Regions from separate parts of the Homo sapiens genome. Here regions 1, 2 and 3 are each linked to region 4. Evidence: fine-mapped expression QTL. A gene starts in region 4. Each other region holds a variant in brackets. All regions are shown on one strand. Distances are between the middles of the regions. Region 1 holds the start of KRT74 (keratin 74). Region 2 holds the start of KRT2 (keratin 2). Region 3 has its middle 23 kb from the start of MIR9898. Region 4 holds the start of KRT1 (keratin 1).

Evidence for each region. PIP is the estimated chance that this variant, and not a neighbour inherited with it, causes the effect.
Region 1: its variant is fine-mapped to the expression of KRT1 in whole blood (INTERVAL, PIP 0.95).
Region 2: its variant is fine-mapped to the expression of KRT1 in whole blood (INTERVAL, PIP 0.93).
Region 3: its variant is fine-mapped to the expression of KRT1 in whole blood (INTERVAL, PIP 0.99).

The regions. Positions count from the first base shown.
Region 1 is chr12:52,567,220-52,575,321 of GRCh38, reverse strand. It overlaps KRT74 (keratin 74), which reads left to right and starts at 1,479. Exons shown (of 9, transcript NM_175053.4): 1 at 1,479-2,015; 2 at 2,655-2,869; 3 at 3,318-3,378; 4 at 3,868-3,963; 5 at 4,489-4,653; 6 at 5,338-5,463; 7 at 6,933-7,153; 8 at 7,629-7,663. The coding sequence starts at 1,545. RefSeq lists an enhancer at 2,885-3,054. The variant G/T (reference allele first, on the strand shown) is at 4,456.
Region 2 is chr12:52,649,946-52,658,047 of GRCh38, reverse strand. KRT2 (keratin 2) reads left to right here and starts at 5,837. Exons shown (of 9, transcript NM_000423.3): 1 at 5,837-6,490; 2 at 7,495-7,709; 3 at 8,074-8,102. The coding sequence starts at 5,906. The variant G/T (reference allele first, on the strand shown) is at 3,929.
Region 3 is chr12:52,871,453-52,879,554 of GRCh38, reverse strand. No RefSeq gene overlaps it. Among named protein-coding and RNA genes, the nearest start is that of MIR9898, 23 kb to the left of the region's middle. RefSeq lists a silencer at 5,102-5,331. The variant T/C (reference allele first, on the strand shown) is at 4,310.
Region 4 is chr12:52,676,313-52,684,406 of GRCh38, reverse strand. It overlaps KRT1 (keratin 1), which reads left to right and starts at 4,000. Exons shown (of 9, transcript NM_006121.4): 1 at 4,000-4,649; 2 at 5,651-5,865; 3 at 6,184-6,244; 4 at 6,662-6,757; 5 at 6,927-7,091; 6 at 7,223-7,348; 7 at 7,912-8,094. The coding sequence starts at 4,059.

The DNA of each region.
Region 1 (8,102 bases), 110 kb after region 4:
GGCAGCTTCCAGGCCTAAGCTCCACGCTCCCTGCCCAGGTCAGCTTCTCCTTTTCCCTCCCCAGCAGTGGGAGCAGTTGTCTTCTGCCCTCGGCTGGATCCAAACAAGCCAAGTGTTCTCAGTTTAGTTATAGGAAGTGGTCAGAGTCTTGCATGAGGGCAGCTGCCAGATACCTAGCTTTGAAATAATTTTTTTTGTTTTTTGGAGACAGAGTCTTGCTCTGTTGCCCAGGCTGGAGTGCAGTGGCACAATCTAGGCTCACTGCAACCTCTGCCTCCCAGGTTCAAGTGATTCTTCTACTTCAGTCTTTTGAGTAGCTGCGACTACAGGCATGCACCACTGCGCTCGGCTGATTTTTGTATTTTTAGTAGAGGCGGGGTTTCACCATGTTAGCCAGGCTGGACTCAAACTCCTGACCTCAGGCAATCTGCCCTCCTTGGCCTCCCAAAGTGCTGGGATTACAGGTGTGAGCCACCATGCCCAGCCCTGAAATAATTTTTTAACATTGCACTGTACCCACACTACCTGAGCTATAAAGCAGTGATACTTCCTGTTTGAAAATTGAGTGCTCCCTGAAGTTGCCAGGAAACTGGCAGAACAGCCCACCCTGAACCTGGGAGTGAAACTCAGGGGGTCCTGTTCCTTGGTGACTTCAGCCATAGGGTGTTTCCCCAGGGAGTGCAGGGGCTAATATCCCAGCTCCTGCCTGACTTCCTAGAGTAGGACAAATAATCTTATCCAGGAGAGAAAATCCAACTGGAGGAAATGCAGCTGACTGGAAAGGTTCTCATGGTTGTAAGGCAATGTCAAGGTCACCACCACCCAGGCCCTGCCCAACACAGAAGGCCCTAGACAATATCCCTGCTAGGGGGGCATGCAGATGCTGCAGAGTCATTCCTCTTCCTTCCTGGGGTCCACTTCACTGCTAGACAGCTGTGGTCCTTAGCATGGCCCAAGGACGGACCCTGGAGCTTCTTACCCAGATCCAGATCTTTGAGGACATCTTTCCAAGAAGAATCATCTTTCCATGTCTTCTTTTCCCTGAGGTAAAAATTCCAGCTTCCACACAAGACCCTATAATAGAGAGATGGTTTCTTTTGGGAAGAAACCTGGGGTTTTTCAGGTGAGTCTACTCTGGGGAAAGCCAGGCATTTCCCCTGCTCCTTGCTGATGGTTAAGCAAGAAGGAGGTAGCACTGGAAAAATAAAGCTAGGAGATCTCTTCAGGGGATAACTCTTCAGGTCCTTAATTAGGGAGCACAGATAAACTCCAAATTAGACCACTCCACTCTGCAAGGGCAGCATATTCCACTTGCTATCAGAAGAGCTTTGTTGCTGCAAAGGGCTTGGAGATCTCTGTTCTACAAATTGCCCATGGCCCCTGGCCCATCAGCAGGGGAAAGGAGATAGTGGAGAGACGCCCTTTTCCGGTGTCCTGGGCTCAACAGGGATAAAAGGAGGCAGCACTCTGGGTGCCCCATCAGTGTGTTCTCTACCCCTTGGAGACTGCTTTTCTCCAGCTCTGTCAACTCAACCTTTCCCACCATGAGTCGGCAACTGAACATCAAGTCCAGTGGTGACAAGGGCAACTTCAGTGTGCATTCGGCAGTGGTGCCAAGGAAGGCTGTGGGTAGCCTGGCTTCTTACTGTGCAGCTGGCAGAGGGGCTGGCGCTGGCTTTGGCAGTCGGAGCCTCTATAGCCTTGGAGGGAATCGGCGTATTTCTTTCAATGTGGCTGGTGGCGGCGTTCGGGCTGGAGGTTACGGCTTCAGGCCTGGCTCTGGGTATGGAGGGGGCCGGGCCAGTGGCTTTGCTGGCAGTATGTTTGGCAGTGTGGCCCTGGGGCCTGCATGTTTGTCTGTGTGCCCACCTGGGGGCATCCACCAGGTCACTGTCAACAAGAGCCTCTTGGCCCCCCTCAACGTGGAGCTGGACCCTGAGATCCAGAAGGTGCGCGCCCAGGAGCGGGAACAGATCAAGGTGCTGAACGACAAGTTCGCCTCCTTCATTGACAAGGTGGGTCTCATAGGAGGAGGATGAGGCCGCACCCTGAGGCCTGAGCAGTTTTCCTGCTGCCTGGGAATGGACTGCACACTGTGGCTGGAAAGGTGCAGCTGGGCCTCAGGAAGGGCTTCCTCACCATTAGGGAAGGAGAGTAGGTCTGTGAGCCACGGAGGACAAAGGAATACATGAATATATCGGCTTCTTTGGCGATTTTGCAGGGAAGGATGGGAAGCTGGGTAAAGAGCAGCCCTTCCTTGACAAAAAAGTGATGAGTTTCTTGAGGACAGCTGGATCTTCCAAGAACATGAAAGGCTAATAGAATCCAGCAGTGTTCAGAGGGAAGGGCTCATGGTACAGGAAGAGACACTTAGTTGAGACATAAGGAAGGACATCTCCTGGGACCAGGGCCGAGCAATAGAAGAAAGCTGTGGAAACTCCTTGAGTGAGTTCTCAGTGATGCCTTGTCCAGAAGGCTAGGAAATGAGCACTTGTAAAGGATCTAGTTTGTGTGGAATGGCAAGGGTGGAGAGTCAAGACATGAGCAAAAATGACTACAACAATCTATGGCAAACCTGGGGAGTCAATGGTGTGTGTCCAGGGGGCATGACTGCACCCATTGTGGTTCCAGGTGTCTGTTGATTTGGGTTCCAGGTACGCTTCCTAGAGCAGCAGAACCAGGTTCTAGAAACCAAGTGGGAGCTGCTGCAGCAGCTGGACCTGAACAACTGCAAGAAGAACCTGGAGCCCATCCTTGAGGGCTACATCAGCAACCTGCGGAAGCAGCTGGAGACACTGTCTGGGGACAGGGTGAGGCTGGACTCGGAGCTGAGAAGCATGAGGGATCTGGTGGAGGACTATAAGAAGAGGTGAGCAGGCTCCACCCGAGGGTCACAGACCATGTTTCCCGTGCCTCTGGGCTCACCTGATCTCTGTGCCATTATTTTTTAGGAGATGGGGGAGTATGCACCAGGGTCAGGAGCTCACATCCCTTTCTCTGGCTAGGGGGAAGGGCCTATCCTCTTTGATGATAACTTCCTGCCTAGTTGATAGGAAGCGGTTCCTGTGCTCCTTGACCCACTGAAATGTTCAGTTGCTGGTGTCGGGAGCCCAATAGGCACCTGGGTGTTTTCCTAACATGCAAAAACTAGGAGACAAGTGAAGCAACTCAGGGATATCTTACTCCTGTCACTAGCCTCTTACTGCTCACCCCAGAGACCCTGCAGGGACCCTGTATCCCAAACATTTGCCTGGCCAGCAGGAAGAGAAAGTTCCTTGGCTAAGGGGGCTAAGGCCATCTACTCTCCCTGCTGGCAGATATGAAGTGGAGATTAACCGGCGCACGACAGCAGAGAATGAGTTTGTGGTGCTTAAGAAGGTAAGAGAGGGAGGAGCCTCCTTATTAGGGTCTCTCGCACCCCCATCTTAACAACTCTGCTCAGGACTTCAGCCCAGGAGGCTGGGGAGGGGGCTGGTGCCTGGTGAGGGGGCTGGTGCCTGGTGAGGGTGGAGTCATAGTCCTGGCCTCCAGTGAGTTGGAGAGGAAAGACACACACTCAGGAAATGGACAGAGACAGACAGAATTCTGGTCTGGGAACTGTGAAACTCGGGTCCAGCTCAACCTTGCTGTGTGACCTGAGGAAACCTACTACCTCTCTGGGCTTTGTTTTCTCCAGGCATAACAGAGCTGCCCCATCCTCCTTTCCCTATTCCCAAAGCTTCAGGCAGCCTGAGAAGAAATTGATATTGAGTGAGCTTTCCTTTGTGGGTAGAAAATAGAAAATCAGGTGGCTTTGAGGCAGGAGTTGGGCAGGGCAGCTGTGGGATGAGGGTTGCATCCCCCAATGACTCTGGGGCCTCTTGGCAGGATGCAGATGCAGCCTACGCAGTCAAGGTGGAGCTTCAGGCCAAAGTGGACTCACTGGACAAAGAAATCAAGTTCCTCAAGTGTCTGTATGATGCAGTAAGGACACTCCTGTCCCCCCACCCTCACCCTGCCTCCTTCCCGACTCTTCCAGGGAGATACCAAAAGGAGAGATTTAGGATCAACAAAATGAAAGATGTTTTGGTAGAAAGGTACAAAACCCTGCACCAGGAGACCATGGAAGTGCAGGATGCTGGTCCTTGGAGGCCATACATACAGGAGGAAATTGATCTTGATACAATAGTGGACTTGCCCACGGGCAGGAAAAGATAACCCAGTGAGGTCTTACAAAGCACAGAGCCTTGGATTCTGTGAAATTGTGGAAAATGCATTATTCACCCGTCTGCATGTGCCAGCGGGCATCTGCCATATGCAGGGGTTCCTGCTGCTGTTAGCTGCTCTCCCTCAGCTCTGCAGACACATCCCAGAGGGCACTTCTTCCCCCTACTTTGTCCCCGTGGATCCTAGCAGCCTATTGGGCCAGGGACCATGGGCCCAGAAGACTGATGGGGCAGAAGAGGGAAGCCAGGG[G/T]GTTGCTGAATCTGTCTTCCTCTCTCAATGCAGGAGATCGCTCAGATCCAGACTCACGCCAGTGAGACCTCTGTCATCCTGTCCATGGACAACAACCGGGACCTGGACCTTGACAGCATCATCGCTGAGGTCCGCATGCATTATGAGGAGATCGCCCTGAAGAGCAAGGCCGAGGCCGAGGCCCTGTACCAGACCAAGGTGGTCACCGAATGGGTCTCCTCCCACAGCAGCCCTTCGCTTCCTGGGAGGGGTCACCTGCACAGTGAATGTGAGGAATACTTTTGTGGGCATGCTGAATGAAAGAAAGGTTCCAACCAAGGCTTCAAGGAAAAAAGGAATTCTTAGCAGAGCTTGTTATCAAAGATAAATCATGAAACTGGTATGGATTGAATATATGCAACAGAGAGGATCCCTCACTTCTTTCCTCCATCCACGAACTGCCTGTTCCTCTCTGTTGCAGGTGAAAGAAGTGAGGTGGTAAAACAAACACACTTATAGGAATGGGGGCATGTTGCCACAGGGCAGAGGGAGAATCACAGACTTGCGGGAGTGTAGCCATGGGTGAATTTGGTGGGGGGCGAGTGAGAGAAGGAGAAGCCTGTAGCTCTTTCCTGATCCCCACGGGAAGACTTTCAAAAGGAAATGGAAGGCGAGGAGTGCTCTGAGTAATGGAACTATGCTTTGGGTAAACTGAGTAATGGAACTATGTTTGGGGCTGTCAGGGAGAAAACCCCTTACCTGGGCCCCCAGGACCCTGTCCCAGCACTCCTCTTCAGTTCCGTTAAATCCCACCGACAGCCAGGGTGGCAGGGGTGGCTTATTTACAGGACCCTTCCCCAGTGCCCTTGTCTCATCACCAACTTCCTATCTCTGGGAAACCAGATCCAGGAGCTGCAGCTGGCAGCCAGTCGGCATGGTGACGACCTGAAACACACCAGGAGCGAGATGGTGGAGCTGAACCGGCTCATCCAGAGGATCCGGTGTGAGATCGGGAATGTGAAGAAGCAGGTGGGCAGCAGCCCCACAAAGAACTCCCGGTCTCCACAGCAGGCTCTGGGATGAGGAAATGGGGCCTGCCCTTTGGGAACAAGCAAATATCCCCTGCTGGGCTTAGGGGTCCCTCGGCCACCCACAGTCTCCCTTTCCCACCCTGCCTCGGTACCCTACCATCAGAGCTGGTACCCCGCCCAGAACTGGGAGGAGCCTCAAACCTATTTCTCTGACTCCTCATTTTGCAGATAAAGCAACTGGGCTGGGAAGGGGAAGGGACTTTCCCAGAGCCCCCAGCTGGTAATGAATGGAGCTAGGATTAGAACCCAGGTTCCCCTTCTGCAGATTTTTTCTGTGTCCAATGAACCTGCCCCATGTCCCCTTTGGGTGCCCCCTCTGAGGGCAGACCCTCTGTCTCCTCCTCCCACTGGACATGGAACATGTGTGGGGTGCAGAGGGTATGCATCAGGCGCCTCTGTTGGCCACACCAGGTTCCTGCTCTCGGAGTGGGGCATGGTCTGTTGACTGAGGGACACAGCTGTCGATGAAGCCCTCCTGGGTTCCCTTGCCCTGTGCCATGGTACTACTTCCATGTTAGTGGGCGGGGGGGTGGGGGTGGGGGGCCTGTCTTACCTGACAGCAGCAAATTTTAAACACTGCGTCAGTGGGGAGATGATATTGGAGGCTGGAGGATCCTTCCTGTGACCTCTCTGAGAACCAGGTCTGCTCTGCTAGTGATAGAATTGACCAGCGGAAAGATCTGAGCCTGTTCTCCTTCTGGTGCCCCCACAACCCTCCATGCTCTGCAGGCAAACACAGGGACAACTCTACGACTCTACATTTGGCCGATTCACAAATTCCATGAGCATAGTTCCTCCCTCTCTGTTAGCAACAGGCATCGCAATGCCCCCCAGATGTTCATCAGAGTCCAGCTTCTGAGGTTGTGCCTATAATTTAGGGCCTTATCCTCCTGCTCTAAGGGAAGGCCAGATGTGGGAGCCTTCACACAGACTCTCCCCAGAGTGCTGGAGTCCAGAAACACTCATCTGGATGCTAACAGATCAGAAGGATCCCCAATGGGGAGAGGTCCTGCAGCAGGAATCTGATCACAGTGGGACCGTGGCATACTGTCTCATCCTCAGGGCTGGCCTTGCTAGGGGATCGGGCATGATTTTCCTGAACCTGTAGTATTTTGAATCTGTAGATACTGGTGGCCTCCGGTCTCAGGCACTATCTAACTTTGCAAACATCGACATTTCTTCCTGACCTCCTGAAATGCAACTGCTTCCACAGCTTCATGTGATAACAGCTTTGAATACTCCTCTGCAATAGAAAATAGAAGAGACAAAGTTCTGGTGTTGGCTTTGCAGCTTTTACTCCTTGTCACCTAGGGCCCCATCTGCAAAATGAGGGCATTGTTCTACTTAACTGGTATGAGCTAAATGTAATTTTCTGTTCTGATGGTCTCTCTGTTCTTTGCCCTTCAGCGTGCCAGCCTGGAGACGGCCATCGCTGACGCTGAGCAGCGGGGAGACAATGCCCTGAAGGATGCCCAGGCCAAGCTGGATGAGCTGGAGGGCGCCCTGCACCAGGCCAAGGAGGAGCTGGCGCGGATGCTGCGCGAGTACCAGGAGCTCATGAGCCTGAAACTGGCCCTGGACATGGAGATTGCCACCTACCGCAAGCTGCTGGAGGGCGAGGAGTGCAGGTAGGTGGGGTGGAGGGGAAAGTGTGAGAAGGGACTGGGGTGTGGCTCCTGTCTGGCTGAGGGGCCACCTGGAGAACAACATGGTTAGTGCCAATACAAGCAAGAGATGTGGTGATTTCGTGAACTCAGAGGCAGCTTCCTGCAAGGGGTTGTTGGACATGAGCCATGAAGCGTAGATGGCCGTGTGCTGCTGTGATGAGAACCGGGGGCTCAGACAGACCTGGGGCTAATGACTGGCTCTTCAGCAGGGGCTAATTATTGGCTTTATCCTATGCTAGTGGTGTGGTCTCGGTAAATCATCTAGTATCTCCAGGACTCTTGTTTTCTCATCTGTAAGATGAAGGCGATAGTGTCAGTTTCGTAAGTTGTTATAAGGATGAGTTTAAATGATGCACGTATAAAAGCAGGAGCCCATTGATGTTTAGTGGAATCTCGACACTGAGTTTTTATCTTTCTCTAACTTTCTGTCTCACAGGATGTCTGGTGAGAATCCATCCTCTGTGAGCATCTGTGAGTATTCTTGAGAGATGCCTTGGGTTGGGAAAGCCAGGGACCCTGGGACAAAGTGATGTCACCTCCATTTACTGTCTCACCTCCCAAGAAGCTTCTGTTACTGTCTTGGGAAGGTTTCTGGGCTTCAAAGGAAATGTTCTCCCTTTTCATCCTGTGAAATGGTGACTGAGGTCATGCCCACCCTTTTCCCTTCCTGTTTCTCCCCTGGGACGTTGTCATTTGGAGAAAGGGTTGGTGGACATGGATTTTCCTAGCATTTCCAGGAGGGCAGGGACTGTATCTATCTGATGGGGTCTTCACCTCACACGAAGTCCGGCCCGTAATAGGCTCTCAGTTCATCTCTGTAGTGCTTCTTGACTACTGAGGGTGGTTCTGCGGATTAAATGAGGTGTTGTTGTGGAGAAGCCCTTGGGGACAGCCGTTACCATAGCTGTTA
Region 2 (8,102 bases), 26 kb after region 4:
ACAGTTGGGGAATCAAGATATAATGAACTCGTGCCTTTTGGGCCCTGACTGATGGCAGCTCCTGCCTGATGGCAAACCCTCCTATTCAGCTGCAGCGTACCTGTTTGCCCTTCTCTCTCCTCTCTGGCTTCCCTTTGTCTACTTTACTGCTGCCATTTCTTCCTTCATCTCTTGGTGAGAAAATAACCGAAAGCAGGGTCTGTGTCTGCACATTTTGTCTCTACGCTTTCCCAGAGTTTGCATCTGCTCTCAGGGCTTTAGCTATTGTGTCCATTTAAAGCACAAACTGATGTCTGAAATGGAAGGAATCGGTGTAGCCCGGCGCCTCCACTTTACAGATGAGAAAATCAAGGCTCAGAAAAGCTGAGGTTCCTTAGGTTCTGGAGGCAGTTGGCCACAGGAATGCATGTCCTCTACCTCCTTATCTAGGAGTCACCCTGTTCCTGTTGGTTTTCAAATCCCTCAGTCCACAGGGGAGGAAAGGGGGACCCAGCAAGGGAGGTGACATGCCAAGGTGACAGGGCTGGCTTCTGGCAGAGGAACCCAACCTTCACTCCTAAACACATTCCTCCCAGTTTATCACATGGCTTCCCTTATAAATGTACTTCTAAATAGAGACTAATATACTTCTTTGAATACCCAATGGACTATGAATTGTGCCTATGGCTCATAAAAATATAATTCAGGTCGTAAATTTAATAATCTCACATGAATGACTATACTAGCTCTGTTAAACATTAATTGCTTAATTAGCAATGATTCCACCTGCTTTTTTAGAATTGAAAGGCTTTTAAAGAAGAGCCTGTGGTGGAAAAAAAAAGCCGTCCAGAGAATTTTGAGCAGTTTTATTTTCCTTTTTTTCTTTGCTTCATAAAAATCCCTGGAGCAATCAGGTCATTCAGAATCAAGCCTTTGGCCTTTGCTTCCAACGTGAGGCATCCCAGCACCCACAGTCTGACGGTGTGTCTAAAACCTTTGTTGCTAGAAAGAGGAGCAGGAGTCTCTTGAATTTGGTCTTATAAAATTCAATTAACTTTCATGCTTACTCTCTCTCTGATTTTTTGGTGGGGGGATGTTTTCCCACCTGCCTTCTTCTGCAATGATCTCTATCCGAACAAATGCAGGAAGCCTTGAAAGAGCTCACAAGGGGGTGGCGGCAGCTCTCAGTGATGGGACAGAGAGGTGGGGCTGGTGTGGGAGAGCAGGTGAGGGCTGGGATGTCTCTTAGAGCTTCCTGTGGTGCATGGCACAGGCTGCTGCTGAAGAACTGGCGAATGCCCAGGTGGAGGCATCCAAAGTGAATTCCAGCTGTCAGTGGCAGCAGCACAATATAGCATTAGTTGGAAGGCTCCTCTAGATGGAGAAGTTGGGTAAGAAGGGGGCAGCATTAAATCTGGTGAAACCTGGAGAAGTCTGCACTGTGAGGGTGGCGTGAGTGGTATGATTACAGCGACTCCATTTTTCTGAAATCATGACCAGGATGGGATGGAGTATTTCACAGCTGTCTTGTCCTTCCACATTTGTGTGGCTACACAGATCATGGACAAAATATGAATATCAGTGCAAGAGCAGAAGGAGAACGTGGTCCGGGGAAACAGTTCGGCTGGAGTGAGGACTGCACCTGGGAAGGGCAAGAGCTTTTCACAGACGACCCTTTGAGGCTTTCTCTGTGTGAATGAAGACTTGCTGTAGTTGGGAACACACAGCCACATGTCACACTAGTATCATTAACTAGACCACAGTTTAGCAAACAAGGCCCAGGCCCCCGGGAGTTGCAGTAGCCTATGGCATACAGCAGAGCTAATTCAACTGGAGACTGATCCCACTGAGAATAAAGCTGAACTGTGTCACTTGCCATTTTCTGGGTCAGATATTCTGGGGTCCATTTGGAAAATTAGACCTATACATGACATGGCCTTGGCTATGGGAAAGGAGGTGACTCGCTCTGTGCTAGGCGCTGATGGCTCATATCCTCTTGCTAGACAGCTGTCTTGTTCAACCAACATGTGTAGGGTCCCTGCTGTGCACTGGGCAGTGTCCCTGCCCTCTCTCCTCTTCTGCTTCTGGGGCCAGCATTGTTTCTGAGCAGAGGACACATCCTGCTTTCCTGATAAGCCTGCCGTGTGTGTCCTGGAATCTCCTCGTTCCAGAATGGGCTCTGTACAGTGGGAATGTTTGGTGCTTCATGCTCAGGGTGGACGTGGCTGCCTGCCAGCCTGGCTCCTCAGTCATAACCAGTTTGGCCAGAGCACCTGAAAATCAAACAGCTACCTGTCTCGCTGTAAGAAAAGGGGCCGATCGAAAAAAAAAAAAAAACTGAAAAGGAGATGTTAGGTAAGAAAGGAGGGGAGCCTGGGCCAAAATGGAGAACTGGGTCAGGGGCTGGGAAGAGAGACTGAGTAGGCAGTTTTAAAATGATCATTTATGAAGGAATGCCCTGGAGGGAGGTGTTGAGCAAGTCTCTCCTGCTGGGTGTCTGTCAGCCTCCTGTCCCTTCTTTTCTGGGAGCCATGGGAGCTGCAGAGCTCCTTGGAGCAGCACCTGGGCGCTCTGATGGAAGGTACCCGGAGCCAGCAGCCCATGCAGAGGCCAGGCAGCCGCTGCCCATGGAGGCTTCTGCTTCCAGCTGACCTGCTGCTCAGCTTGTTCCAGCCTCCTGCTGACTCGCCTCTCTGTCTTCCTAACTTCTTTCATGACGTTATTGGACTCTCTAAGGATTTTGGTCCTCTTGAGCAGCCTGAGCCCAGCAGCAGGGGCTGGAAGAGGAGGGTTTTTTTTTTGTTTGTTTTGGTTCGGTTTTCTTAAACCCAAACTCTTGGTTTCCATTCCAAGGTGGTAGGAGCCAGATGCCCCGAGGGCTCAGCAGCCGTCTCCAGCTGATGCACTGAGTCTTTGGGAAGGAGAGACTAAACTCACTGGCTGGAGGAGAGAACCCTGATCAGGGCTGAGACAGAAACCTGAGACAACTCCAAGTGGGACCTTTAGGCAACAGGTCCATGAAAGGCTGCGAAGACTTCAAGCATTGCCAGCATCACATGCACACATCTGGAAACACCTGCAATTCCAAACCAAAAACCAGAGAAATGATTTTTTTGGAATACAGGCTTATTCTTCAAGTGATTCTCTGTGCTGAGGGGATAAAGGTTTGGGTTAAAGATAAATATGACCTTGCCTCTACCCTACAGAAGTCCTGGGACATGGTTCATTGTCACACAGGGAGGACTGTGATGATGAGGCTGTAAGGCAGGTAGATACGCCACTGCTAAAGGAGAACAGAAGAGAGGGAAATGAATTCTTACCTGGAGACTCTGGTGTTAGCATCCACACTAGGTTGAGCATTTATTTCCTGTTGGCTAGACAGTTAACCCCTTCTCTGCTTAATACTGGGGGCTCATTTTTTCTGCCCCACTGGCCAATAGACGAGCTTTTGAAACACTATGAGGAGAAGCATTTAGGATCTTGGACTTGCTGGCAGTTTGTTGAAAGAAAAAGTGGGGAACAGGAAGAAGGATTTTGTTCTATAGGATTCCTGTTCTCTTCTCAGAGACAGTGAAGCTTAACACTCTTTGCAGCAATAGCTCGATGTCCTTGTGGGACAGTAGGGATTCAGGATAAATATTCCTATTTTATAGATGAAGAAATTGAGGATACCAGTTGCGTAGAGGCAAAATCACAACCAGACCAAGATTCTTAACTTCCATTTCACTCTCTTAAAGAATGCAAAGCATATTATCTAGGAAAGCACATTGAGATTATGTAAAAGTTGAAAATTTAAAAATATAGAAATAAAATGTTACATAATATTCAAATTGCATTAATTCTAGTCTCCACATTTCAAAAGAGTAGGAGGACTCTTTCAACTTGACTTTCAAAAATTGGTGAATGGGTCTAGAAGGAGAAGATGTTCAGTGGAGAGAGTGGGGAGGGA[G/T]ACCAGGGTGTGAGGGCAGAATTAAAATGCAGTAAAACATGCAGATTGGGTGCCTAGCACAAATCTGGCTCAATTTCCTTCATAGAGGCATTAAGACCCCCCTGAAGCTGCCATAGTGTGAGCACAGTCATGGTGGAGTAAGGGACGACTAGGGCATTGCTCAGATATCTGTAGATAATGACACATTTTGCTTTGGATTGAGACTGTCTCCAAAGCTGTTAGCTTCATGATTTGTTTGCATGATTATAATTATGCAAACCAGATTGGAAAAAATAATTGAGGAGACATGTAGCTTTGTTTCCTTCAGCATTCTTTTACTGCAAATTAAATACCTTGAATAGTAGTTAAGACAGGATTGGAAACTTGGCGGGGAAGATGCAGAAGGGTGAATAGCATTTATTGAGTTTCTGCTATGAACTAGGAACTGTGTTTAGCACATGTGTGTATTGTTCTGTTTTCACAGTAGCCATATTCTTATTATTCTTGTTCACTTTTTATAGATGAGGAAACTGAGGCTTGAAGAGGATTATGGATTATCTGAGGTCATTTAACTAAGATACAAGAAAATTGGGATTTGACCTCAAACTTATGTTTTTTACATTATTTTGTGATAACTTGGTACTAGGATCTGAACCACCTGGTTCTGTAATTTATGATGCCTGTGGAGAGTGCATGTTCATAGTAGCCAGAAGACAGTAACATGGCAAGGGGGAAAGGAAAAGGAATTATCTTTGTCTCACCCCAAACAATAATGATACTGACATTTTATTGTGCACGGTGGTTTTCAAAACACTTCATACGAATTTCCCATTTTATAGCTGGGACCACAGAGCCTCAGGGTTTCATTCAAGGCCTCACAGCCAATAAATAGCAAAACTGGGACTCAAACCCAGAATTTCTGACTAAATTCAGTTTTATTACTCCAAGAACCTCTCCCACATAGTTGGCCACATGGACAGAGGAAGTGGTTGAGTTTAAGTGTGAGTGCTCTGTGCAGGCTGGATGGTCTTCTTATCCTCAAGCATCTGTGGATGTCATTGAAGAGCCTGACTTCCTAATCACTTCCCAGGATCACCAGGCAATACGTGATTACTGACTGACTGAATCAATATACACTTGGATCTTGGTTTGCAAACTTTCACTTGGTGTCCCGCATCACACAGGTCCAGAAACAGCGAAACTTTTCTCATACCTCTCAACCTCTGGGTGTTCATGTAGACAAGGGACAGTTGATGGTTATACAAACCATCATGGTTATAAAAAATCTCTATTCGGTGCCTAGTTATTGTGTATTTTTGGTGTGGCATGGGAAGAAAAGAGCCAAGATATTTTGAAAATCGACACCTCTTTTGCAGTATCCGAGGCCAATTACTTTCTGTAAGAGGAGGTCGATTTCCAATTAGCATTTAAGGTCATTTAAGACCTTTGCAGTCTCCCCTGCACTAGTTGGGGCTCTTTCTGGGAAAGAGGGAAACTACAAGAGAACTACAAGGCTGGCATTGAGGGGCTCTTGCAGTCTCTAAACCCACCATCCCTTTCATTGTTGAACTGGGGTGGTGAGCCTGCACAAGCATGGGTGGTAGCTGACTTCCCTTGGGCAGGTCCAGAACAGGGAGCAGCATTCTGCAGAAGGTCCTTTTCCAGATTGAGAAACCCAAACCCTGATCTCCTCTTTTGATGATTTTACAAAAATCAAATTGCATGACAGATGCCCAGATAAACAGAAGTTTGCAATCAAAGCAAGTTCTGGGATGGAGCTGATTAGTAGATTTTTAATGGCTATTAGCTTGATAATCACGCACCAGGAATAGCTCCCAGGCAGACCAAACCCACGTATAAGTGGATCCACACCCATGTACACAACACCTAGTTGGCAGGTATATAAGGGGACCCTGAAAGCCTCCCAGCAGCACAGTTGAGTCTCCAGCCTTGACTCTTCTCAAGAGCCTGTGACTTTCCTCCCTGGACAAAGGCATCATGAGTTGTCAGATCTCTTGCAAATCTCGAGGAAGAGGAGGAGGTGGAGGAGGATTCCGGGGCTTCAGCAGCGGCTCAGCTGTGGTGTCTGGTGGAAGCCGGAGATCAACTTCCAGCTTCTCCTGCTTGAGCCGCCATGGTGGTGGTGGCGGGGGCTTCGGTGGAGGCGGCTTTGGCAGTCGGAGTCTTGTTGGCCTTGGAGGGACCAAGAGCATCTCCATTAGTGTGGCTGGAGGAGGTGGTGGCTTTGGCGCCGCTGGTGGATTTGGTGGCAGAGGAGGTGGTTTTGGAGGCGGCAGCAGCTTTGGAGGTGGCAGCGGCTTCAGTGGTGGTGGTTTCGGTGGAGGCGGCTTTGGTGGAGGCCGCTTTGGAGGTTTTGGGGGCCCTGGTGGTGTTGGAGGTTTAGGGGGTCCTGGTGGCTTTGGGCCTGGAGGATACCCTGGTGGCATCCACGAAGTCTCTGTCAACCAGAGCCTCCTGCAGCCTCTCAACGTGAAAGTTGACCCAGAGATCCAGAATGTGAAGGCCCAAGAGCGTGAGCAGATCAAAACTCTCAACAACAAATTTGCCTCCTTCATTGACAAGGTGACTCTGGAGAAGACGGCTCCCACTGATGCTCAGGCCACTTCACTTCCAGAGCCAACCAAAAAGAAAATGGCACAGATTTGTATTTCTTAGGAGCCAGTGGTGTACCGCAGTAGCCTGGGTCATTTGCGGTTTCCAGATGGAAAAGACGCCAGCTTTGTGGGTTACATTTCCCATAACAGCCTGCACTTAGGAAGCATTTGTCCCTTTGACCTTATTGTTACAGTCCATATAAATAATATTTATGGAAAATTCTGAAAACCATAAAAAATGGATATAGGCAAGTATTGAACTGATCCTTGGGACAGGCCACTGGAGCAGCAGGTTTTGGAAGCCATCGTCTTCTGAGATAGTGTTTCCTTCCTTAGCAGTGATTACTAAACTCTGGGAAGCTGAACCTGAAATATCTGCTTGGGAATGCAGGAAATTCCTGCCTTCAAGAGAAGCGTTCTCAGTTTTGTGATCCATAAAGTCTTTATTGGTGTCACTTCGGAGTGTTACTGGCTTTTCTCCTATTTCAAGGCAGACGAACCTGTCTTGGTTTATCTGCCTTGAAATAGGCAGGGATTTACAAGGCTCTTAAAAATCAGGCTGAGGAGCCCTGCCCTCTGGGACTCTCATACTCAGCACCCTTGCGAGCAGTGCCAGCAGATGGCTGCTTTCGGTTTTCCCCAGAATTTATGGGATCTTGGCTGGAAATTCAACCAGGATGCGGGGAGGGAAATGGTCTAGAGTATTGGGAGCAGCTGCAAACAAACCAGTGAGCAGTGAAGCAGCAAAGAGTCTCCTCTGCGTGGAGAGAGCCGGATGTAGCATTAGGAGTCTGTGGGACTTTCCAGGGGCGAAAGCAGGGAGCTCAGAAGCTCTGCCAGTCATGACTCGGCATCCAGCCTCAGACACTTCTCGAGGTCCTGAAGCAGCACCTGAGCTGCCCCTGGCCAGCGTGGCTTGCTTGGTGTGAAGGATGATCTAGAACTCATGTGCTCTCCTTCTGGTCATGGCAGGTGCGGTTCTTGGAGCAGCAGAACCAGGTGTTACAGACCAAATGGGAGCTGCTACAACAAATGAATGTTGGCACCCGCCCCATCAACCTGGAGCCCATCTTCCAGGGGTATATCGACAGCCTCAAGAGATATCTGGATGGGCTCACTGCAGAAAGAACATCACAGAATTCAGAGCTGAATAACATGCAGGATCTTGTGGAGGATTATAAGAAGAAGTAGGTGGCAGAGTGAAACGCTGAGTGGAGATAAACATTGCACTGAGCCATTTGATCACTCCCTGGAAAGCCATTCATCTCCCAGTTGCATTTGTGGTGGTAATGGGGAGAGGCATATGTATCTTTGTTGATTATTTGTGAGGAAGACAGTGAGACTTTAGAGATCATTTTTGTCTTTTGTATGTTTGAGAGTTAGTTTATAAAAATATATCTTTAGTTTGGAAATCTTAGTTTCAATTTAGATATTTAAAAAGTGTGTAATATTCCCAGAGAATGGGGCATTTGGGGTGAATCCAGTATAAAAGGAAAAGAAAAAAAATGAAGGGGAACTAATCTAACTGCTGTAACATCTGTGTCCCAATAGGTATGAGGATGAAATCAATAAGCGCACAG
Region 3 (8,102 bases), 200 kb before region 4:
GAAGCGCGTGGGCAGGACCCAGGAGGACAGGCAAGCCGGCAGCAGACAGGCCCCAGGAGAAAGCAGCCGCCTGTGAGCCAGCGGCTCCGAGGTGCAGCACGCTGTCGTTTTGGAGGCTCAGAGAGGGGAGTTGGGCAGCATCGGGCAGAGCCAGGGTGAGAACTTCCGTGTCCTCACTCTCAGTTCAGTGCGCCTTCCTCCACAGCACTCCTTCCAGTTGATCCCAATCATGTCCCAGCCTGGCCCAAACCCTTCCTTGGAGACACACAAGCCCCTGAGCTTGGCACTCCAGGCCCGCCTGACCCCGCTGAAGTCACCTCTGCCGTGGCCTTCCACTCAGGCAGCTGAATCCCCTGGGGGTTCCCTGAGGAAGTCGCACCCCCTCACACCCTTAGCCCCTGTGCCTGCTGTCCCCCTGTCTGCAATGCACCTCCTATGGCTGACCCATCCACTTGTGAGCCTTTCATCTTCCCAATTTAGTTAGGATTTCCTCCTCTGGAAGCCGTCCCTGCCCCTCCGAGGCTGGGCTCCCCCTACCCTGTGCTACCCCACAGGGCCCTTCTCACCACACCACAGCCTCCCCAGCAGACGGTGAGCTTGGCCAGGGCCCAGTCTGACTGGAATGCTTCTGTATCCCCGTGCCTGGCACAGAGCAGATGGTTGTAAATATCTGCTGTTAAATGAAAGAAAGGCCTTACTACATTCCCTCCCCACCCTCTGCAGCGGCAGCCTTGCCATCATGGAGGGAAGACACGCAGGCAGGGGGCTGTGGGTGTGTGCATGCGTGTGCGCGTGTGTGTACTGTCAGGTGCACATATGGAGGGCCTCAGGCACCAGAGACAAGGAATAATTCCTATGGGAGATTGTATGTGCATAGGCGCAGACAGGTACAGACAGGCACAGACAGACATGTGCACACCAACCCAGAAAGATGTGGAGCTTCATACACACGGGGAGATTTATTTAAAACAAAAACAATTTTCATGGAAGTGTAACATACATAGAGAGAAGTACTCAAGTCATAAGTCTACAGTGTGATGAAGTTTCACAAACTGAACAGATCATGCTACCAGCACTCATGTCAGGAAGCAGAGCAGAGTCAGCCCCCAGAAGTCCCAGTGAGAGCTGCATTTTTTTTTTTTTCCAGACAGGGTCTCGTTCTGTTGTCCAGGCTGGAGTGCAGTGGTGTGACCAAGGCTCACTGCAGCTGCAGCTTCAACTTCCCAAGCTCAAGTGATCCTCCCACTTCAGCCTCCTGAGTAGCTGGGACCACAGATGTGTGCCACCCTGCCTGGCTAATTTTTATTTATTTTTTGTACAGACAAGTTCTGACCACGTCGCCCAGGCTAGTGGGAGCATTTTGAACACCTGCTGCCTGACTCCTAAGCTGAAAGGCGGAGGGGGAAGGGCACAGGGAGGAGAGTCTGGCGCCCTCCAAGGGCCTGGCCTGCCCTGAGTTGCTCTAGGGGTGTTACTGCTTTTTAACCTCAGGCCCTATCTCTGATGACTTTCCTGCCACCGTCATTGCCCCTACTACTCCAGCACCTGGGTCTGCCGGGCCCTTGAACAGCTCCCTCCTGGGTCTGCCCGGCCCTTGCACAGCTCCCTCCTGGGCCAGCAGGCTCAAGGGTTTATGTGTCCTCTTCCCAGGTCCACCTCAGGTGCCATAGGGCTTCTACGGTTTTGAGCTCTTACCAGCCATTGGCTTATTTCTGCTTTCTTCCCCATGCCTGAGGGGCTGGTCTGTGAGAGGGCATGGCTTTGGCAGTGACATTTTGCAGCTCCTTGCCCCAGCCAGGCTTATCATGGCTCTTGGGTAGGGGCAGCAGGGATAAAACGAAGGCTACTCCGATGTCCTGGAACTGCAAAGCCAATGGGTGGGCAGTGTGCAAAGACCTGTCCCCCAGAGCCAGCTATCCCAGTGCAGAGCTGGCATGACTGTGTTTGGGACAATGACAAGAGCCTCCTGACACTGTGCAAGTCTGTGTGTTGAGACATGCATAGAGACGCTGTGTCCAGCTGTGCATATTTTATGGGGACTATGCATGAAACTATGTGTGAGATGGGGGTTTGGGACACCGTGTGGTGTGCTGGGAGTATATATGATTGAGTTGCACGTGCAGGGCTGTGTGCTGTGGGCCTGTGACAGGGAGTGCTGGTTAGGTATCTGTTCCAGTGGTGGTGTGTGTGCTTGAAAGCCTGTGTGTGTGTGTGTGTGTGTCTGTGTGTGTGTGTAGATGTGTTTGTTGGTTAGGGGCAGTGTGGACAGAATACCTTGTTTACAGTGGAACTGTAGTTCTAGATGTGTTTGCTGACTGCAACCAGGAAGTTACCTGTGGGGACCCAATGTTGGTGAGGAGGGGTCCACCTAAAAAGGAGAAGGGCTGGGTGCGATGGCTCATGCCTATGATCCCAATACTTTGAGAGATGGGAGAATTGCTTGAGGCCAGGAGTTTGAGATCAGCCTGGGCAACACAGTGAGACCCTGTCTCTGTGAAAAATTAAAAATTAAAAAATTAGTCGGGCATGATGGCATGTGCCTATAGTCCTAGCTTACTTGAGAGGCTAAGGCAGGAGGATTGCTGCAGCTCAGGAGTTCAGGGCTGCAGGCAGCTATCGCACAACTGCACTTCAGCCTGGTCAACAGAGTGAGACCCTGTCTCAGAATAGGTAAATAATAAATAAAATAAAAATGAAAAAGAAGGCACAGGGTTGGAGGTGAGAGGCTCTGAGCCAGGCTGCCCCTTCCTCGTGGGGTCTTAACTGCCTGGTCCCTTTCCTCACCTCCAGCTGTGGGGATCAAGCACCCTGCCTACCCACTCACCTGCAGAAATGGGCTAGGTGCGGCCTAGGCTGAGGCCCAGATGCTGAGATGGCAGGCCTAAGGAGGAGGGGGTGGGGCAGCGACGTGCCCGAGCAGTGGGCAGCTTGCCCTGTGCTGAGCTGGGTTGGCAGCTGGTGCTGGGAGCAGGCGGGGCCCCACTCAAGCAGGCTGGGGCAGGTTGGGCAGGGCCTGTCTCAGGCATGGAGGAGATGGAGCTGATGGAGCAAGCCCAGGCCTTGTTTGTGCCAAGATGGAAGGTTGAGGGGCAGTGGTGCGTGCTGTGGGAGGAAGGTGTGTCATGCTCATGGTCTGTGCACACATATCCCCATCGTGAGTGCATTTAACTCATGTGTGCATTTGATTTGCGTGTGCATTTGATTTGTGTGTGCATTTGTATTCCTCCTTCCTACGTTGTGTACATGGATCCATGGGTCTGTGTGAGTGCATGGGTGGTTGTGTGTTTGTGTGACTGGCACTGGATGTGCTTGTGTGAGAGTCTTGCATGGATATATGTTTGTGGGATGGTTGTGCGCCCGAGTGACTGTTGTGTGTACATGCTTGTTGGAAAGGCCTATGTGGCTTTTGCATATTATGTTTGGGGAACACATCTGTTGTGAGTTTGTGTTCACATAGGTGTTTTCTCAAAGGCATGTGTGTGTGCATGCCTGTTCCTCTGTGTGTACATCAGTAGTCCGGGTCTTAGGCCCAGAGGGCAGAGGGGCACTGGTGGGCTGTCCATTGTGAGTGCCTGTGGGGAGCAGAGGAAGAGGTCTAGGTTTTCTGGGTCGGGGCTTGAGTGGGTTTGGTCAGGCCCCTGAGCTGGTTTGTTCCTACAACAGCTTCAAACGTTCTTCTCACTCCCTCATCATCCTCTTTTTGGTGGTTCTGACTGTGTGTGTGTGTGTGTGTGTGTGTGTGTGTGTGTGTGTGTGAGTAATGACCTGCACACCATTGTGAATCTGTGTGTAATGACTCCACTGATTCCTTCATGTCTGTTGGTAACAGCTCTATATATCAGGTGTGCACCACATGAAACATGCACGTGTGTGTGTCTGGGCATCTTTGCAATGACCCCCACAGCTGGATCTGTGCACTGTGTCCAGCAGCCATTGTGCATGTGTATGTGAGTGTGTGTGTGTGTCCTACAAAGTGTGCGTGGGTCGAGCTGCAGGGTCCTCTTCCCCAGCCCCGGGATCTGGCATATCCTGTTGCCTACTCCAAACCCCACATGTACTGACTCTTGGCTTCTTTCTCCTTCCCACCCCAGTCCCTCTCACAGTCCTGGGGGATCCTCTCTTGGTATGGGAAAGCCTGGATGAAGTTGAAGGCTGGTCTCCCTGTGGAGGTGGTGGAGTTTCCCCCAGGTTTGCTGTGGGGCCAGGTGGAGGCCACTCCTGGCTAAGGCGCTCAGGGAACAGCCACAGCCGTGGAAAGAGCATACACTTTAGAGCCAGAGAGTCCTGGGTTCAAATCCAGATTTGCTCA[T/C]ATACTGTGCCAGTGTGACCTTGAGCCACCACGTAGGCCTCAGTTTCTCCCCGGTAAAATGGGGATTATGTTTGTTTTTGGAGTTGCTGTGAGAAGCATCGATAAGGTGAACACGAAGCTCCTAGCATGGCACACATGGCCCACAGTAGTCTCTGGACAATTGTGGGTCCTTTTCCCTTTTTGAGGGATCACTTGGTTTAAGATCACTTTTGAGATCTTGCTTTAAAATCACTTTGAGATATTTCAGGCACTGCTGTAGGGATTGAGCCTGGCCTGCAGGGTAGCATCTGGCCCCAGACCTTCAGGGGCCCTGGCACTGTGGAGGGGGCAGAGCCAGAGCTGGAGAATTACTCAGAGCTAACCCCTGAGGGGCCTGTCCTGGCCGCTGTGAGACAGAGGCACAGAGCTGCTAAGCTCTTCCCCACTTCTGGGGAAGTGGGGTGTAGGGGGGCACAGAGATGATCTGGAGTGGTGGAGGTCAGTGATGCTCCAAAGAGACCAACAGGCAGATTCCAAAAGACCACAGTCCATCGGCCACACTCATAAAGATCTTAAGACACAGAGACACCCCCAGAAAGACAGGCACACAACCTCCCGTTGTGGGGACAGAAGGCCCCACCGCCCATGGACAGACACACAGTCTCCCAGAAGAACAGATACCAGATTCTCCTCCCTAGAGCGGGACAAATTCTCCCACAGGGACAGAAACGCATTCTCCCCACAACACTCTCCTCTGCCCCGGGGGAGGACGCGAAGGGGGCGGAAGGCAGGCCAGGCTCCCCCTGCTGAGTCAGGCTCTCCCGGCTTAGCGGGCGGGTCTGGGGTGGGAAGAGGCCGGGCGCCCGTCCAGCTCCAGAGGTGGGGTGCTGGATGAGTCACCGCGGAGCGGGCGCGGCCGGCGCCGCCCTGGGGCCCCCGGCCGCCGTGGGAGCGCTCGGGCCCAGCCAATCGGCGGCCGCCACCCGGCTCTAGCGCTCTGCCCCGCCCCGCCGCGCCCCGCGGGCTTCCAGGTTCCCAGGGCCTCTAGCCGCCCCGAGAGACCCCTGACGCGGCACCCAGCCAGACTCCATGGTCTCTACTTCTGGAGAGAGGCTGTCGGTGACGGAGCACAGGGCTCTCAGGGGAACCGAGCGGAGACGTCTCAGCTCCTCTTCGAGGGGCCACTCCCCGCCACTCCCACCTGTGGATTAGGGGCACGGGTGGCTCTGCGGGGGGTGGGAGGCAGCCTCGCTCTTCTTCCTTCTTACCCCCCTCTGAGCTCTTCCCGGAATGTCTCTGCGGGGCACTCAGCTCCTCCTTGAAGGAGACAGGCTGCCTTGTTTGCCAGGCTCAGGGGCACAGGGGCATTTCCTGCTACGGTCTTGACGGCAGAAGTTCTCTGTCCACAGTCAGCAACACCACACGCTGTCATCTGCTTCAGAAATTGTTCTAGGGACAATACAGTCAGAAAATATGCTCAGAGGGCCACTGTCCCTAAGACCTTGGTGATGCCAGCTGCTGGCAGGTGCACCTGACTTGCACCTGGGCCACAAAACACACACACACACCCCACACACATGCACAGGTTTAGACGGTGCAGACACACACACAGACAGATGTTACACGATTCTCATATATAGCTCTTTATTTTCGGGCACACAGAGAGACACATTCAGCAGTAGAGGGAAGTCTCCTGGTTCTGCCTCTTACTGGTGATCTGACTTTGGGTCAATTATCGGATCTCTCCAACCTTATGGCCCTATCTGTAAAATGGGGATAGCTAGAATATCTTCCTTAAAGGATTGTCCGAGGATTAAAGGAAACAACACCTGGAGAGTACATTGAAATAATAAATGGTAGCTATGATGATCTCCCCCACAGATATATCCACACACAGAGGCATGGACACATGCAGATTTACACACACACAAAACCTCAGACATCAATACATGTATAGGAGCAGGCACATATCAACACAGGTGTATTTGCACAAAGATACAAAGACACAAACAGAACCCCCTGCCCCCACCACCAAGGAAAACAACCCCCGCAACAACCATAAAAGCAAGTTTTACTGCCCAGGGTGTGATGGGAGCAGGCAGCCCAGCTGGGTTGGGGGTGGAGGCCTCCGCGTCGGGCGGTGCCTGCCCTGCTCAGGTTCCCACTCAGCCCCAGGGACAGGACGCCTTCATTCTTCCAACACGCCACTCTCTGTCCCCAAGAGCAGTCACCCCATCCTTTCTCCACTGTCACCTGAAATCAGGCCCTACCCTCTCCCAACAGCATGAGCTCCAGGGTGGGGGCCCCCAGGGTGGTTGTGGTTGGTGGGAGGGCACAATGGTCTGGTTCTCCAGGGACGGTTTGGCGGTCAGCAGGGGCGGTGGTCCTCTGGGTTGGTGGATTCCGGTTTTGGGGATTTGGCTGCTTGGCCTGGGAAGTAGCCCGAGGGGGACCGCCAGCCCCTGGGAATGGCCCTCTGGGCCCTGGACAGTTTTAGGCAGCTCTGCTCTACTTTGCCTTGTGCAGCTCCCCAGCTCTTGCCTGAACTCCTTCCTGGAGCTGGGGGCATTTGGAAATGGTGCTCTAGAGCCAGGGAGAGCTAGAAGGCATCCCTGCTCCTGACCCTGGCAGTAAGAATCCTTTCCTGTTCAATCACGGCCATACCAGCCTGGTCTTCCAAGTAGTGTTTTCCCATTGCCCTGGTGTTTCCCCCGACAATGAACCCTCGGTTACTAGCTAATCCTAGTATCAGAGACTGCAAGGGACCCCCAAGGCTACTGGGTCTACATTCGAGGTAGAAAATTTCACATCTGAGGTCACACAGTGATTCTGTAGCAGCAGCAGTGGGATTGAACCTGGGGCTCCTGTCTCCCCATCCAGAGAAGCCCTGAGTCTCAGGGCTCCCACCACCTCCCCCACTGCCCATTTTCACAGGGAGCAGGTTTGTGCCCCTCCCGTGGACTATATGGTCCTAAGGGCTTTTGTTGAAGACCAGAGCAAGGAGATGCTTGGGCCCTGGCCTCTGGGACTCCCAGCCTGATAGGGGAAGAGAGTGTCAGATCCAGGCAACAGTGGAGCAACTGAACACACCAGGCCAGGAGGCTGGCACAGATTCTGGGAGGTTTATCAGGCAGTTGCCTGCAGAAAAGTTTTGAGGGAGAGGAGGGGCATGGACAGTCCTCTGGACTGTGGGGCGAGGGGTCTTGAGGGAAGGTGCCTGAGGCTTGCTCTGTCCCCTTCATAGAGTAAACTTGCTGCTTCCAGTTCCGGGGACTAGATTCTGGGGGTTGGCCATAAGATATCAGGTGACTCTTTGCTTAGAATGTTGAGTACAACTGAAATGGCCCAAATGCTTCACCCAGGCCTGGACCTGATGTAATGTCCTGTAGTATGACCTCCAGGGCTGACCCTGGCCAAGCTCAGGGGCTGGTCTCCTCGGGGGAGCTGGGGAAAGCGGTGATTTCTCTGATGCCTTGCCAACCTCCATTCTCTTGCTCTGAACCAACTCAGTCCAAGCTTCCCAGGGGCCAACTGACTCTCAGATGTGACCACGTCCTTCCTGAGGGTCCTCCAGAAGACTGAGAAGCCTTCTCAAATGCCCAGGCTTTCAACAACCCCCTTCCTGACTCTCAGATTTCGTGCCCCTACTCTCGCCCCCAGGGCCTGGATGAGTCAGAATGATGGGGCTCCCAGTTGGCAAGACTCAATTTTGCTGGCTGGGAGTTTTTTCAGGGTGCTAATTAAAAGGAGCCACCCAGAGAGAATGACTTCACTTGTTCACACACACACCCTTCTGCCCTGCCCTCCCTTCTGC
Region 4 (8,094 bases):
TGTGTGTGAGTCCTTGGGTGGGGGTGTTTTGGTGCTCTGTCATCCAGCACCGCTGGGGTAACTCTCAAGTATAAGGGGCCATGTGGGATGCTGGGAGGACATCAAAAGACACAGGGGACTTAGTCTTGCTTTCCAAAGGCTTCCAGAGTGATTGAGGGGCCAGGAAACACACAAGCACATGCATGAAAATGAGCCAACAAATGCATCAATATGTACTAAGTCTGGCAGCAGCCGAGCTTGGAAAAAGAGACCAATAGAGCACTTGCCCGATGTGGACTGAGGAAAACTCCCTGGAGGAGATGAGATCTGGACCTGTCTGCTGCCTGCTTGAGCGAGAGATGAAGGCATTTGCCCACAAGCCCTGATGGACCAAAAACAGATTCAGGACCAAATGCTCAGGAATTGAGATCTTTGGTGCCCCAGAGCTTGACTATGGGTAGGGATTTGTGGCAAGTTGCCGAGGCAACCAGAAGACCTTTCAGAAAAGAGAAGAGTAGAAGTGGGCTTGGAAGACAGAGAGGAACAGGGATGGAAAGGGAAGAAGAGGGTTGATCAGTCTGGGCAAAGCACGAGAGTGAAGGGGTCAAGGCGTGAGGCCGGGGGAGTGGGTGAGCAGGGTAAGATGTAGGTGGTGCTGGTGGTGAGAGCAGGCCAATGACAGAAGGAGCCCATGTGATGCGGCGGGCTTGGACTCTGGAGTGAGGCAAGCGTGGCTTGTCAGTTACCTGCTGGATGACTTTGGGCACATATTTCAACCTCTATAAACCTAAGATGCCTTTTCTTTAAAATGGGGCTAAGAGCTCCCACGACGCAGACTTTGTGTGGTATTTAAATGCAATGTGGCTCCTAACAGCATAGTTGCTGCCTGTAGATGTTAGTGTCTCTTTCTTTCTCATTTTGTCTTTATTTCATAAATGCACAGTACATAAGTAAGCCAGGAGAGAGTGTGTGGCTCACACCTTTCCTGCATGTGGTTCTTCATATCCCACACACCCACACTGATCCTGGGGACATCACAGGAGATGACGGGCCTGGTCTGGCAGCACTGCAGCTCCAGCTCTGTTGGGCTGCCTCGAAAGTGGGCAGTGGAAAAAGAAAAGGAGTTTGATTCAACAATTGGAAGAGTCTCAGGAATTGACTTATGACTTGGACACTTTTTTTTTTTTTTTTTTTTTTTTTTACTTTTTTGGGCCTGTGCTCTCACTTCTCTGTGAGGCAGGTTAGATGATGTGACCTTTGAGGCCCCATGGATGAGAACATTCTGTAATTCTCTGTGTACTTGTTTATAGGGCCCAGTTCCACTTGCCTGTCTTTGAGCCTCTTCCCGGTTCAGGGAGGAATGTCACTTGAATTGAAATCAGAAAACCCAGATTCTGCTTCCAGATGTGTCTTTTCCTAGCCGGAGTGTCTAGAGGAAGCCACTTAATCTCTGAGAATCAGTTTTCTGTTTCATGAAATGGGTTGAGAACAGCTTGATTGCCTAGTTCTCAGGGCTCTTGTGGGATGCTCTTTGCATATGTGTTTGGTGGGGTGAGCTGTGCAAATGTAAGCTATGGTGAGGTTTATGGCACTTATTCCTGCTAGTCCTGCATTTCTCCCTTCTCACAGGAGCACCTGGGGTATGTTTTGCAGCTAAGTTGTCTACCAATTCCCTGACCATTCATTCAAACCTTTGATTTTTCTGTATGTCAGTTTCTTAGTTCAAAGATGGGAGTGTGGATCACTGCCAAGGTCTGTTTTTGGCTGGCACACACATGCACACAAACATGTGTGCACACAAACATGTGTGCACACACATACTCACACCCCTCCAAAATGCTAGAAGGAATCGATTGTGCAGAACAATATGTCTCATGAGGGAGTATGCTGAACTAAAATAATTTTGATTGCTTGTCAGAAAATGATTAGGCAACAGTCATTACCATGCCAAGACTGTCCCAGTCTCCATTGTTCCTAACAAGACCTGAATTACTCATTCCCTAAAGAGATGGTTGGTTTAGCAGCCGAAGGATTTTAGTGCTAGGACAGAGTCCCAGACAGCAGTGCCACAGTGATGGCGAGGGAGAGGAGTAGCAGGGGAGCGGTGAGGGGCACTTTCTGGAGGAGGGTATAGGGCAAAAACTGGGAGGAGAAGAGGGACAAGGTTCAATAGCGGAGTGCAATGGAGAGGACCGACACAGCCAGCCCGATTCAGAGCCACAGAGTAATGGGACCAGATGATCTTCACAGACTCCCTTTCTCCCATAGATCTTGCACACCATAGTGGAGACTTCCCATGTACATCTATGGTTTGCCACTTACAGAGTTACTTGGAGCCAGCTGAAGTTAGAGCTGGCTTCTCCCCTTTGAGTCTTCAATTCTGTGTTTATGTGCAGGCCCGGGGACCATGCCAGGCTTCTAAGAAGTCTTCGAATGAAAGTCTGCTTGGGCTTCTAGTGTGTCCAGATCTCAGTGCCACTATTATCCACTGATATTGATCAAGTGCTGCTCTCCAGGAAGACCCCTGAGGTTTCCTGGTCCATTGCAATGCATGCTGGGTACTCTTGCACTTGGATGGAAGTAAAATCTCCTCACTAAACTCTGTGCCACCAAAATCTCCTTCTCAGTGTGAATTGAAGAAACATTTTCCAAGACTTGCATGTGCCAGGAGCCAAGGACTCAGAGTGATAAAACAGGCCTTCTGCCCTCAGAGCTCTCTGTGGTGGGGCGCTTCCTGTGCTGTCTGGCTTTACACACAGCAGGCAGAATGACTTGAATTCGGCTGCTGTGCTGTCGTACAACATGCTGTTTAGGATCTTGCACATGATAGCTAGGTATTCTTGCTTCAAATCGCAGGCACCCCACTTACCAACTGTGTAGACTTGATCACGTTATTCAACCCCTGTGTCTCTGCTTCCTCATTTTACAAATGGGGAGAAAAATAGCATCTATCTCAAAGTTGTGAAAATTAAGCAAGTTAATACATATGTGCTACGTAGAACAGTGCCTGGTACATGGTCAGTTTTTGATACATGTTAGGTATTATCATTATTATCACCTCCAGAAACAATTTAAACTTCTCATATAAGGCTCTCCAGACACCTCTCATTGTCTTCCCTTCCAAATCTGCATTTATCTCTCTCTCTTTGCAGTCCAGTGTGAGGCTTGAATCACCTATCAAGCCTCACCTCCACCCCTGTGCTTTACAAAATGTCCTAGAGCTTCTATTTACTCGTCTCACTGCTCTGTGGGCTTTTTCACTCAAGGGCGTTTGCATGCTATCCATTGCTACCTGTTTTCTATTGCTGGTGTCTGTCTCCTGCTCTATCTTTGAAGAAAAGAAACAAGAAAAGGAATAACTGAGAAACAGAGAAAAAAAATGTCTCTCCCTTCTGGTTCTTCCAGACCACCCACTCATCCATCTTGTTCAATGACAGCTTCTCTTCCTTTAATTAATCACTGTGGTATATTTATAAAGCTTATATTTATGAAAGACCTTTTAATTTTTTAGTTATTAAAGCCCTTTCTCTTTGTCAGGTTGTAACTGAGTGAGCTCTGGAGTTTGGAAAGAAGATCTTAGAAATGGGCCAGAGAGCTCCTTCTGAGATCCAAGCACGGGGAATTGCACCTGCTGTGCATGGTAAGAGAGTGTGCTTGGTAGCTCACAAAGGCAAGGTGAGAATAGAAACTTTCATGCCTTTTTGATGGGGGTTATGAAATCCTACCAAGAAACACCAGGTATCAGATGTGGGGTCCTGTTTTCCCAAAGCCACAAATGCTTGAAGGAAGATCTTGTGTGATAAAATAATTACCACATGAACCAATCTTGCATGCACAGCAATTTTGAGAGCCCATCCTGGGAGCTAGGTGTGTAGTGTTTATCGTATTGTTGAGGCTCGTAAAAATCTTGTATGGCTGCAGGCAAGCCAAACCCTTGACAGGCACTGCATCTCCGCTGACTCTAGAAGACCAAGCCCAATTTCTTCCCTGTATATAAGGGGAAGTCTCTATGCTTGGGGTAGAGGAGTGTTTAGCTCCTTCCCTTACTCTACCTTGCTCCTACTTTTCTCTAAGTCAACATGAGTCGACAGTTTAGTTCCAGGTCTGGGTACCGAAGTGGAGGGGGCTTCAGCTCTGGCTCTGCTGGGATCATCAACTACCAGCGCAGGACCACCAGCAGCTCCACACGCCGCAGTGGAGGAGGTGGTGGGAGATTTTCAAGCTGTGGTGGTGGTGGTGGTAGCTTTGGTGCTGGTGGTGGATTTGGAAGTCGGAGTCTTGTTAACCTTGGTGGCAGTAAAAGCATCTCCATAAGTGTGGCTAGAGGAGGTGGACGTGGTAGTGGCTTTGGTGGTGGTTATGGTGGTGGTGGCTTTGGTGGTGGTGGCTTTGGTGGTGGTGGCTTTGGTGGAGGTGGCATTGGGGGTGGTGGCTTTGGTGGTTTTGGCAGTGGTGGTGGTGGTTTTGGTGGAGGTGGCTTTGGGGGTGGTGGATATGGGGGTGGTTATGGTCCTGTCTGCCCTCCTGGTGGCATACAAGAAGTCACTATCAACCAGAGCCTTCTTCAGCCCCTCAATGTGGAGATTGACCCTGAGATCCAAAAGGTGAAGTCTCGAGAAAGGGAGCAAATCAAGTCACTCAACAACCAATTTGCCTCCTTCATTGACAAGGTGAGTTTCTCTCTCATTGCACTGGTAGGGCTGCCGCTGGTCCACTTGGGATTGGTGCAGTCAAAACACAGTAGGTTTGAACCTCAAGTTTCCATGTTTACATGATTAAAAGGATGTTTTGTGGAATGGTCTCCTAGGAGATATGTTAGATGTATGCTTGTGAATGGTGTTAATGACTCTCTCTTTGACAAAGGGTTCGTGGTCGACCTAAAGGTGGGTCAGTGTGACATTAACATTTAAGTGCTTTTTATTCAGCTCTTGAGCGGAATTGGGACTCATATCTGTTGAATGAAGATAATAGAAATGGGGCTAACTGAACTTTCCAGGGTGCAAGTGAGAACCCTGGAAAGGTCTTCCTAACCATAGAAAGGGAGTTGAGTGTGAACATAGTATAGAGTGTTATTGTAGCAGAAAACATGTGGTCAGTCAGTGCCAAACATCTTTTGCTGTCAGAGGGGAGCTCTGCCTTCTAATAATTTTACATTGGTACTGGATGAGGCTAGAGTTTTTTTATACTAATATCTCCAAAAATCAGCTCTAAAAAACTCAGATAAACCATTTTTTTAATTTTTTGCTTAATCATTAATAGTGCCAATCCAAGGTTATCCACAACAAATTTCAAATCCAATTTTGAATTTTCCTGATATACTTTTGAAATGTGTGTGTGTCCTGGGGATGCAAACCAGTTTTTATGGTAATATACCTAACAAAATTTTGGAAGGCAAATCTCTTAAATACCATGCACCTATTTCAAAACATAATTGCAATAATTCTGTATGCGCTTTGCTATTGGTATTTGTTTAGTTACTCCCTTCCAAGCCCTCTCTGAATTAACAAGTTGGGTTTTATTATGCAGATGATATTAACTTGATCATCTTCTTCCTATTTCTCTGTCATGGTCAGAAGATAGGAATTGAGGTTCTTTTCCAAATGAGGCACAGTTCTCCATGGCTATGAGACTCCATTTATGCATCAGGAGTAAAGGGGTCTTGTGTTTTTAGGTGAGGTTCCTGGAGCAGCAGAACCAGGTACTGCAAACAAAATGGGAGCTGCTGCAGCAGGTAGATACCTCCACTAGAACCCATAATTTAGAGCCCTACTTTGAGTCATTCATCAACAATCTCCGAAGGAGAGTGGACCAACTGAAGAGTGATCAATCTCGGTTGGATTCGGAACTGAAGAACATGCAGGACATGGTGGAGGATTACCGGAACAAGTAAGGGACCCTGTCTGGGCAGTTCTTAACTTTTGCTGTAAAAGAGTTCCAGAAAGTAATAAGCTAAGATCATGAAGCAGCATGTAGCTATGTCTTTTCTTAGGTTAGAGGCACATCAGTTTGACATTTTCAGAAATCTTCATTTTCTCAGGAGATGGAAATAGTCTAGTGGTTTTATTGCTCAGTAGAAAGTAGTGGCCAATATGTCCTAGGTTCATAATAGAAAGGCAGTGATAGGCAATGCCACCTTTAGTTTAGAATGCTGGACTTCAGGTCTTACCACCTCTGAATCTCCTAATTGTTTCTGCTTTCCTGCAGGTATGAGGATGAAATCAACAAGCGGACAAATGCAGAGAATGAATTTGTGACCATCAAGAAGGTAAGCAAATTCTGTAGGACGGAACTCACATTTGAAATAAATAAGGGAAGAGGGTCTCCAATTACTAAGCAGAAAGCAGCCATGATATGGAGAGCCAGGTAGTAGACCTGGGGAGTATATGGAGTGGGGCTATATTTTCACATCATCATGGACCTGGACTGATCCAGGCACTTGGCTTCTCCATATTTCCCAGCACCTTACATAGTAAGTGGAGTGGCAGATTCTCAGCAAGCCAGGCACACTCCCTTGATGGTGCTATCCGGGGGTGGGACAGTTAGGGAACTGTGATTTACCTGGGGCAAAAAGGAGTGGAGTAGACCCAAAGCTCCTTTTTTTGCTTGGAGAATCCCCTCACAGGTAATGAGAGGGACCTGCCCTGGAGAGAATGTGCCTTCATGATGTCCCTTGTTCCTCTAGGATGTGGATGGTGCTTATATGACCAAGGTGGACCTTCAGGCCAAACTTGACAACTTGCAGCAGGAAATTGATTTCCTTACAGCACTCTACCAAGCAGTAAGTCTTCCAGTTTCAACCAAGTTTATCTAAATGGAGAGTTTTTAAGCCTGAACCCACAACGATTCAGAAGAATAGATATTTATCTTTTATTTTCTGACTGCTTTCTCTGTCTAAGTTGTTTTTTGTTTTAGTGCTGTAAGAGTCACTAACCTATTATGTCTTGCAGGAGTTGTCTCAGATGCAGACTCAAATCAGTGAAACTAATGTCATCCTCTCTATGGACAACAACCGCAGTCTCGACCTGGACAGCATCATTGCTGAGGTCAAGGCCCAGTACGAGGATATAGCCCAGAAGAGCAAAGCTGAGGCCGAGTCCTTGTACCAGAGCAAGGTGAGTGGGCTGAAAGCCTAGCCAGTTTCCCTGAAATGGCTTGTCTTGCTATCCTGTGTTATCTCATGTATGTGTGCCTGTGCCATGCTGAGTTCTGCCTACATTTAACAAACGCTATCTACCATCTTTAGTATGAAGAGCTGCAGATCACTGCTGGCAGACATGGGGATAGTGTGAGAAATTCAAAGATAGAAATTTCTGAGCTGAATCGTGTGATCCAGAGACTTAGATCTGAAATCGACAATGTCAAGAAGCAGGTATGTGCTTTCTCCTTCTACCACTCAGCTGTATGGAATGGGGGTAACCCTCAGGTAAAGGGCGAGTGCTTTCCTAGTTTTGAATCTTGCAATTCATCCCAAGGCTACATTATTATCCCTGGTTCCTTTTGTGACTATGCTAGTTTCCAGAATGCAGCCATCATGCTGGGTTCTCTTTAGGGAAATCTGTGAGAATGGCCTAGTAGAGAAAGATGGGATGGTCAATGTGAGTGATCTAGCCTATGACCCAAAGTGGACTTAAGAGTTGGGGAGTGAGAGGAAGGGCAGCCAGGAGGTTTTAGAGTAGGTGTTTAGAAGAATGTCAAGTCTGTAAGGGTTGTAGGAGCCTTGACTCAGGGCCAAGAGAGGCTGTTGAGTTATCCCTAAGGTCTTTTAAGGAAGTCAACATGGTGATGTGTTATCTGGAGGTGGGTGTGAGATGACTTAAGGCCAAGTGGTTCTGTTGGACTCATTATTGGCCTCACTGGAGTGGGGAGACCAATTGGGATGAGGAGGCCTAGTGGGGAATGCATATTATGAGAGGGTGTCATATTCTTTTTCAGATCTCCAACTTGCAGCAGTCCATCAGTGATGCAGAGCAGCGTGGCGAGAATGCCCTCAAGGATGCCAAGAACAAGCTGAATGACCTGGAGGATGCCCTGCAGCAGGCCAAGGAAGACCTGGCCCGCCTGCTGCGCGACTACCAGGAGCTGATGAACACAAAGCTGGCCCTGGATCTGGAGATT